Linked DNA regions of Homo sapiens: region 1 is reported to be linked to region 2. The links are microRNA targets in miRTarBase. Many come from high-throughput screens and were not tested one by one. Region 2 holds a microRNA gene; the other region holds the end of a gene's coding sequence.

Region 1 (4,187 bases), not on the chromosome of region 2:
CACGAGGTCAGGAGATGGAGATCATCCTGGCTAACATGGTGAAACCCTGTCTCCACTAAAAAATACAACAAAAATTAGCCGGGCGTGGTGGTGTGTGCCTGTAGTCCCAGCTACTGGGGGCGCTGAGGCAGGAGAATGGCGTGAACCCGGGAGGCGGAGCTTGTAGTGAGCAGAGATCGCGCCACTGCATTCCAGCCTGGGCGACAGAGCGAGATTCTGTCTCAAAAAAAAAAAAAAAAAAAAAAAAAAAATTTTAAGATTTTCTGCACAACTCTTTGGGAGCTGAAAATAAAAACTAAACCACACGTTTTTTATACTGCGTTAAAATTAAATGGGCAGGTTTTGTTCCATCTGAAAAGGGAGTAATTTCATTGCTGAACATCCCTTTATGGACACAAACTGTAAAGGCAGGAAAGTTCTGAAAGAAACATCTATTTACTGTGCCCACATTCCCTCTCTTGTGGTTCTATGGAATAATCTTTGCTTCTTTCCCATTTGGTTTATTTACTTATTTGGGCACAAATGTTTTTTAGGCCTTTCAGAAGTAAGTGGCCAGGAAGTGAAGGGGCTTTAAACAATGGCTTAATGTTTTTTTAAATTCAGCTTATTCTAGGGAATATCTTAGTAGTTTAAAGGAACTCTTGCTTTTGAATAGAGGGCAAAAACATATCATCAGAAAGCTCTCAATGTCCTTGAAACAACCCACAAAAGCAATCTGGTTATGCTTAATGAATTTTAGTTTCAAAGTGATTGAAACAAATATTAAAATTTTACTTCTTCCCACTCTCCTTCCATCTTTCCCATCACCAACATCTAAAATTAGGAAACAGACAATGAAAAAACTGGGCTGAAAATTATTTTTTTCTCCAATAATCTTTCATGTTGCCTGGGACCTAGCAATTAAAAAAAAAACCTGCGCATGCAATGATGTTTGACCTGATACTCAGGTGGGGTGGGAAGGAAGTGAGACGAAGCTGGAGAATGATGGAACTATGACTCTTATTGGTTCCACGATGTCAAAGAGTCTGAATTATAGGAAAACGTCACTCCAACTTGATACTTACAGTACCCTGGTACTAAATATTTAGCCCCAGTCTCAAATTATCCAATTTCCTATAAATTTACTTCATCATCAGCTTTTATGATAAGAGATTAAAGTTATTTCCATAAGTAATCATATTAACCTGTTCTTGGTATGCTGTGTCATCTGCAGGGAGGGATAAAATACCTTGCCAATTACATCTCAGATATTCTGCTATAGAACTACTTACTTTTACTTATTAGGAGAACTCAGATCTTACCTTTAAACATTGGAAACTGCTAGTGTCAATCCTCAACTTCAGATGATACCTTTCTTTTTACAGGACTATCTTCCTTGATTCAATTTGTTACGTGACATGAAACATACAGATAGAGACCTCTTTAATTTTACAGTAAATCGTGTGATTAAGGTGCTGTTCTATTGCTATGAGTAAGTAGCTTCTAACTTTACTAAGCTTTTTTCAACACTTACCTGTGACTATGATACATATCAATTCATTAGAGTGAAGACCTCATATAGCCTTTTGTTTGCATTCGTGTGTGTGTGTGTGTGTGTGTGTGTGTGTGTGTATGTGTGTGTATGAAGAACTAGAAAAAAGAAACCCTGAAAGCAGGAAATAGCTCAAGCATGAAATACTTGTTACTATATAGGGCAGTCCATTATAAAATCGGAAACCATTCAGAAGACACAAGGAATAATATGATTGTAAAAAATTTTCACTCTAATCAGGTAACCCAAAATACTACATTTCTCTTCTTTTAACGTTTCCATCTTTACTTCTTGGGTAATACACCTATTTAAAACTTAACTAAACAACAGTGTGTTTCCAAACAGAAAATATGTGCTGATATGACAATATCCCCAAATGGAAATGACACTAAAATTATTTGTAGAAAATTAATATTAATTGAAAATAAATCCCTAAGACTAATAAGTGAAGTCAGCATATTCTTAAGTATATATATATACAGAGCCTGTCTTTTAGGTTTTCAAAACAAGGATGTTTTCATTATAGTACGCTGGAATTTCTGATGACTGCACAAGGTAAGATTCTAATGATAAGTGCCATTAGAACAGCGTGTGAAATAAACGATTTGAATCTGCCAGAAGGATTAGTTCAGTTCAGTTGGGTCCTCTGGATAATAACTATGAGGCTAATTGCATAATTAGAGAAATAATAGATTGGATGGATTTTACATTACTTTTCTGTCATAGTTTGAGATCATTACTTTATCATTAGTTCAAAGTCAAGGATGGCAGGATGGTCATGAAAGCAAAGTTAAAAACAATGAAAAAAAATTAATGCTTTTGAAAATCAACTATCATTTTAATTACAATCTTAAACACTTTTGTTTAAGGGAATCCAATTTTCCTCTTCCAAGGGTCTTCCAAACATGGAATATGTAGGTTTTCATCATAATCTCAATGTTGTTTATCCAAATGTATCACGTTATATAAATATGTAGAGGTTTCCAGATGTCAAGGGCAGGGTATTAGGTTCAAGTGTGGCTGGCTCTAACCTCTCCACTGAACTCCTAGAGTGAGATTTAAGTTTTATTTAATCTAACTTTACTAATTCAACTTAGTCGTGTAAGAAGGATATGAAGAATATGAATTATTGTACTTCACACTGCTACTTTCATGTACAGTATAGTAGAATAATACTGACAACTATAGACAAGAAGTTAAAATTTGTCTCAGGAAAATTCTTTCAAGAATTTTTAAACAATTTTGACATTAGCCTACTGATAGCTGAAAGAATTTCAAGTGACCCGTGATACATGTGGTGGCCAAAACTTTAAATGTATGGTAAAATATATTTCCTTGGTTAACATTATTAGCTATTTCCCTCCCCCTTTATATGGTACAAAGGCAAACTTTCGCATGTCTAGTCTAGGATATAACAAACTATGAGTTAGTGGAAGGAATGAAGTCGTACTAGGTTTGTGGTTGCTTTTGGATGTTACCGTTTAATTTGCTTCTATTCCTTAAGAGTAATGAGAATTTTAACATATGGGTGGATTTGAGGTTTTGAATAGTAGTTGATGGCAGAGAAAGTTCTTGAAGAACAAATAGCATGGGCAAGTGTTATTTTAAATTCTTTGTGACACAAATAAACACCCCTATGTAGTTTATCTCTTTGTGAGCCGATATGCCCTCATTTCTTTTACTATGATGATATTTTTATCTTTAAAGCACAGTCCTTTATCCCATTAGCCTGTGAAATGTACAGTTAGGGCAGTTGGCTGACCTGACATGGAGTGTAGTAAAACACCAGGACAGCGGAAGCGGGCACGCTGCCCTGAGAACAAGTGGAAATACTGTTCCCTGTCCTCCCCTCCGGCACCTGCCTGTTGGGCTGACTTGGTTAACTGGATGCACTAAAAAATAAAAATTTGCCCCTTGGAAGCTCATAAAAGTGTACTAGAAAAAAGTCTCTAACATTGGATCCACACGGACTGCAGCCATTGGCTTTTGGAACGGGTAGAACAGAGAAGCCTTCACGGAGTAGTGGATAAATATAAAGAAATAGCCACTTCACATATTTCAGTGTCGTATTGGAAAATGAAAAAGGCAACAGATTAGGAGTCTTTGTCACTGTCCACTCCTCCATACATATCTGCAAGCTTTTTGAATCGAGGTCCCCAGTCACTAAGGTAATCATAGTCTTGATCTGCATCCGTGGTCACTGACTCCAGCGAGCTCAGGGAATCCGCCACGGAGCCAGTGCCTTCATAGGCGTAAGTGGCCAAGGAGTCGTATGGCGGGGCAGTGGGGTCCGTGTCATTTTCCTTTAACCTTTGGTTAATGAAATCTCTGACATCGGTGTTGTCGCGAGCTGTTGGAGTCCGTCGGGGTAGGAAAAGGGCTTCGGGCACAATGTCCCTTCGTAATTTGTTGTCCTCTATGGCTTCAGGATTCCTCAGGGTGCCGATATCAAAAGCCTGGGTGTCCTCCTCTCCACCACCTTCGTCGTTGTAACTGACAATGTTATCTCTGATGTCCTCTTTGGAAATGATCAAAGGCTCTTTTTTTCGCTGCCGCCTCAGAGCTGCAAACAGCACCACTGTCACTGGAAGCAGAAAACAAAACAGAAAGGGAAGGAAAAGTTAATTTGCTGCCCAATTAATGTCAGGAAGAAACA
Region 2 (4,000 bases):
GTATGTGTGGAAATCTTCCTTTGCCATTTCTCCTACATGTAGGGAAACCCTTGTCTGGGATTATGTCTTACTGACCTCTGCATCCTGGCCTGGTAGCTGGCACCACGTGTGTTAGAATGAACATGGTGTGGGATCGTCTATTTGACAGTGTGGGTTAAATCCTTGCAGTGCACTGAAGACTGCTCTAAGAGATACAAGACCGTGTCTCCTAAGAGCTGATGTTCCAATACCTGGGTGTATCACGCCAGCTCGGGCTGCCACATTTAGTACCACCTGCCAGGAGGCTTCCCCAGCAGAGACTGATTGTCTCCCAGTCCTGCACACTGGAAGACTGAGGTCAAAGCTGGTTCCCCCTGAGGCCTATCTCTTGGGCCTGTAGATGCCTTTTCTTCCCTGTATCCTCACAGGGTCTCCCCTCTGTGGGTGTCTGTGTCCTAGTCGCCCCTTCTTATGAGACTCAAGTTATTTTGGATTGCAGCCCACCCTAATGGCCTCATTTTACTATGATTTCCTCTTTAAAAGCCCTTTTTTCTAATAGTCAAGTTCTGAAGTCCTGAAGTTTCTGGCTTCAACATACGGATTTGGCGGGATGGACACAATTCGGGCCCTAACATGGAGTCAGATGCTATCACGTATCAGGCAGTGACACAGGAAGGACGCACGCCCAAGAGTGGGGCTGAGCAGGGAGCCTGCAGGGCAGGTGGAGCTGGGAGAGGAAGCAGTGCAACCACAGGGTTGGGCTCCAGCTGGGGTGGAGGTGCCCCTATGCTGAAGGCTGGGATGTGTGCCTGTCCTGTCCTTGGCACCCAGAGGCGCCCACTTGGGGCTCTGGGTGAGTGAGCCAACAGCCAGATGCCCTACATCCAAGTGTCAGGCAGAAGTGGGCCTTGGTCCGCAGGGCTGGGCTGCACCCCATTGGTGATGCCTCCTGGCACACATGTCAGAGCCTCTGTCCAGCATTCCTGTGTCTGAGCCTTGCTGCGGGTGGTTTATGGCCCCCTGTGTGTGTTTTTGCTGCCTGACGCTCAAATGTAGGAGAGGGGGACGGGGCGAGGCTCCAGGGGCGGGGAGGGGACTCCAGGAGCAAGCGATGGTCACTGACACCGAGTGTGCTGTTTCTCCTCCCCACATAGGACATCAAGGACGCCCTGCGCAGGTACGAACCCAGCCTCTCCTGGAGGGGGGGCAGGAGGGAGTGGGGTGGGACCCAGCTGTTGGCCATGGCGACAACACCTGGGTTGTCCCCTCTAGGGTCCAGGATGTGAAGCTGCAGCCCCCAGAAGTTGTGCCTATGGAGCTGAGGACCGTGTGCAGGGTCCCGGGACTGGTAGAGACACTGCGGAGGTTTCGAGGTAGGTGTGGAGGCCCCAGGTGGGGAGATGACTCCAGGAGGGGACCTGCCAAGGACCTGGGCAGCCAGCCACGTGTTCTGTGCCCTGCCACTGCCAGCTCCAAACTCACAGTGTCATGGTGGTGGGTTGTTGGGAAAACGTCCTCTGCTCATACTTCTGACATCAGTTGTGTGGGTATTTTCACACCAAACAATTCTTCAACTTCTGGAAACGAATTGGGTATCCAAGGATTCCATTCAGCATTGAACAGAATTGCCAGTGCTGACACTACAGGAGTTAGTACAGACCCCACAGATTAAGGGCTCAGTCCCATAAGACTGCCCCCACTTCAGATGCCAGTCACAACTTCCAGGGGCTGCCCATACTTCTGTTCCCTCAGCGCCTCTGCAGATGTGAGCATTCGCTAGCACAGCCCATGGAACTCAGAAGAGCACTTTACTTACTGTCATTGGTTTATTGTGAAGGATACCACTCAGGAAGAGCCAAATGGAAGAGACACATGGGCAAAGCCTGGGGAAGGGCTCAGAGCTTTCCCACCCTCCCTGGGTGCACCTTCCCAGCACCTCAGTGTGCTCACCAACCTGGAAACTCCCTGAGCCCCAAGAGCTGTTTAGGTGTCTTTGTGGAGGTTCCATTACATGGTTATGATTGATTAAATCATTGGTCATTGGTGATGGGGCTCAACCTCAGACCCCTTTCCCCTTCCTGAGGTCAGAGGCTGGGGCTGAGTGTTCCCGCCCTCTACTGACAGGATTGGTCTTTCTGGTGGCTGGCCTTATGCTGGGCTCTCAGGTCCCCACCTCAGCCACTGCAGTGGCATCAACTCAGGTGTGATGGAAAGGGGCATCTTATGATAGCACAAGATGCTTCTATCAGTCAGGAAATTCCCAGGGTTCTGTGAGCTCTGCGCCAGGAACTGGGCACAAAACCCAAATCTGAGTCTTGTATCACAGTCACCCAAAGGAAGTACTATCCTCAGCTCTTGCTAGCAGGTCAGGAGCCTGTTGTGTAGGAACTGTGTGCAGGCCTCCAGAGGTGGATAGATCTGAAATCGGAGTGGTCAGGGTTGGGACAGCTGCCCTAATTCACATCCTTCATTTGGAGATTGAAAGGAAAAACAGACTGGATGCATTGGCTCACCTCTGTAATCCCAGCACTTTGAGAGGCTCAGGCGGGAGGATTGCTTGAGGCCATCAGTTCAAGACCAACCCGGGAAACATAGCAAGACTCCCATCTCTACAAATAAAAAACAAAAAAATGAGCCAGCCATGGTGGCACACGCCTGTAATCCCAGCAGCTTGGGAGGATCTGAGGCGGGAGGATCATTTGAGCCCAGGAGATCAAGGCTGCAGTGAGCCATGATCGCACCACTGCACTGCAGCCTGGGGCCACAGAGCAAGACCCTGCCTCTTTAAAAAAAAAAAAAAAAGCAACCAAGATTCCCTCTTGATATCTGAAGGCAAAACATGGACCAATTTGTAGGACATTGTAAGTTGCAACTGGACGTAGCTAAGTGGGGAGAGGATGTCCACTTGGAGACAGTTAGTTACTCCAGGAGGTTGTGAGGCTACAGGCCCAGGGCAGAGAGCCAGGCCGTCCGACTGGGAGGATTGTACCTACATGCCCAGGACATGGGCAGATGGCCCCAGCTTGCCTGTGGCTGTGCCTGGGTGACCTTGGGCCTCTCTCTGCAGGGGACGTGACCTTGGACCCGGACACCGCCAACCCTGAGCTGATCCTGTCTGAAGACAGGCGGAGCGTGCAGCGGGGGGACCTACGGCAGGCCCTGCCGGACAGCCCAGAGCGCTTTGACCCCGGCCCCTGCGTGCTGGGCCAGGAGCGCTTCACCTCAGGCCGCCACTACTGGGAGGTGGAGGTTGGGGACCGCACCAGCTGGGCCCTGGGGGTGTGCAGGGAGAACGTGAACAGGAAGGAGAAGGGCGAGCTGTCCGCGGGCAACGGCTTCTGGATCCTGGTCTTCCTGGGGAGCTATTACAATTCCTCGGAACGGGCCTTGGCTCCACTCCGGGACCCACCCAGGCGCGTGGGGATCTTTCTGGACTACGAGGCTGGACATCTCTCTTTCTACAGTGCCACCGATGGGTCACTGCTATTCATCTTTCCCGAGATCCCCTTCTCGGGGACGCTGCGGCCCCTCTTCTCACCCCTGTCCAGCAGCCCGACCCCGATGACTATCTGCCGGCCGAAAGGTGGGTCCGGGGACACCCTGGCTCCCCAGTGACTCGGGCCCTCCTGGAGGAGTCCTGTTGCCTCTCCTGCCCCTCCAGGCCACTGAGTGTTTTGGCCACTTGGAGGACCTGGGAGGAGGGAGTGTGTCCTTTGAGCAAGAGGAGGAACTCCTGGTGCCTTTCTGAGCCTGCGTGGGAGAACCCCAATTCTAGCACTCCAGGAAACTGTGGGAGAGTGTGGGGCAGGCTCCGTCCTCCCTGGGAGACCCCTCCAGCCACCGGGTGCCACTTAATGCCAACAGCCCTTACCAAAGCTGGGAGCCCCATTGCCCCGGCAGCTCTGGCCTGTGGTTCCAGAAGCTGAGAAAACTCCACTGGGGCTTGCAGAATCCAGGGTTCACCTAAGCTGCACAGTTCCTGCAGCTTTGCCAGCCCCCTGAAAGTCTTGTGTACCCCACC

Evidence for each region. Region 2 holds the annotated microRNA hsa-miR-6742-5p (AGUGGGGUGGGACCCAGCUGUU, at 1,195-1,216, shown strand). A microRNA usually pairs through its seed, bases 2 to 8, with sites in the 3' UTR of a target mRNA and lowers its output. Matches are read on the target gene's strand: a 7mer-m8 pairs with bases 2 to 8, a 7mer-A1 pairs with bases 2 to 7 and ends in A, and an 8mer does both.
Region 1: the mRNA of CDH6 is a reported target of hsa-miR-6742-5p. Seed matches in the 3' UTR shown: 7mer-m8 at 948-954.

The regions. Positions count from the first base shown.
Region 1 is chr5:31,322,746-31,326,932 of GRCh38, reverse strand. It overlaps CDH6 (cadherin 6), which reads right to left. Exons shown (of 12, transcript NM_004932.4): 12 at 1-4,115. The coding sequence ends at 3,625. Among named protein-coding and RNA genes, the nearest start is that of CDH6, 130 kb to the right of the region's middle.
Region 2 is chr1:228,394,299-228,398,298 of GRCh38, reverse strand. It overlaps MIR6742 (microRNA 6742), which reads left to right and starts at 1,190; the gene lies at 1,190-1,251. TRIM11 (tripartite motif containing 11) reads left to right here. Exons shown (of 6, transcript NM_145214.3): 4 at 1,134-1,156; 5 at 1,252-1,352; 6 at 3,047-4,000. The coding sequence ends at 3,594. TRIM11-AS1 (TRIM11 antisense RNA 1) reads right to left here. Exons shown (of 3, transcript NR_199157.1): 1 at 3,851-4,000; 2 at 2,493-2,588; 3 at 1,332-1,556.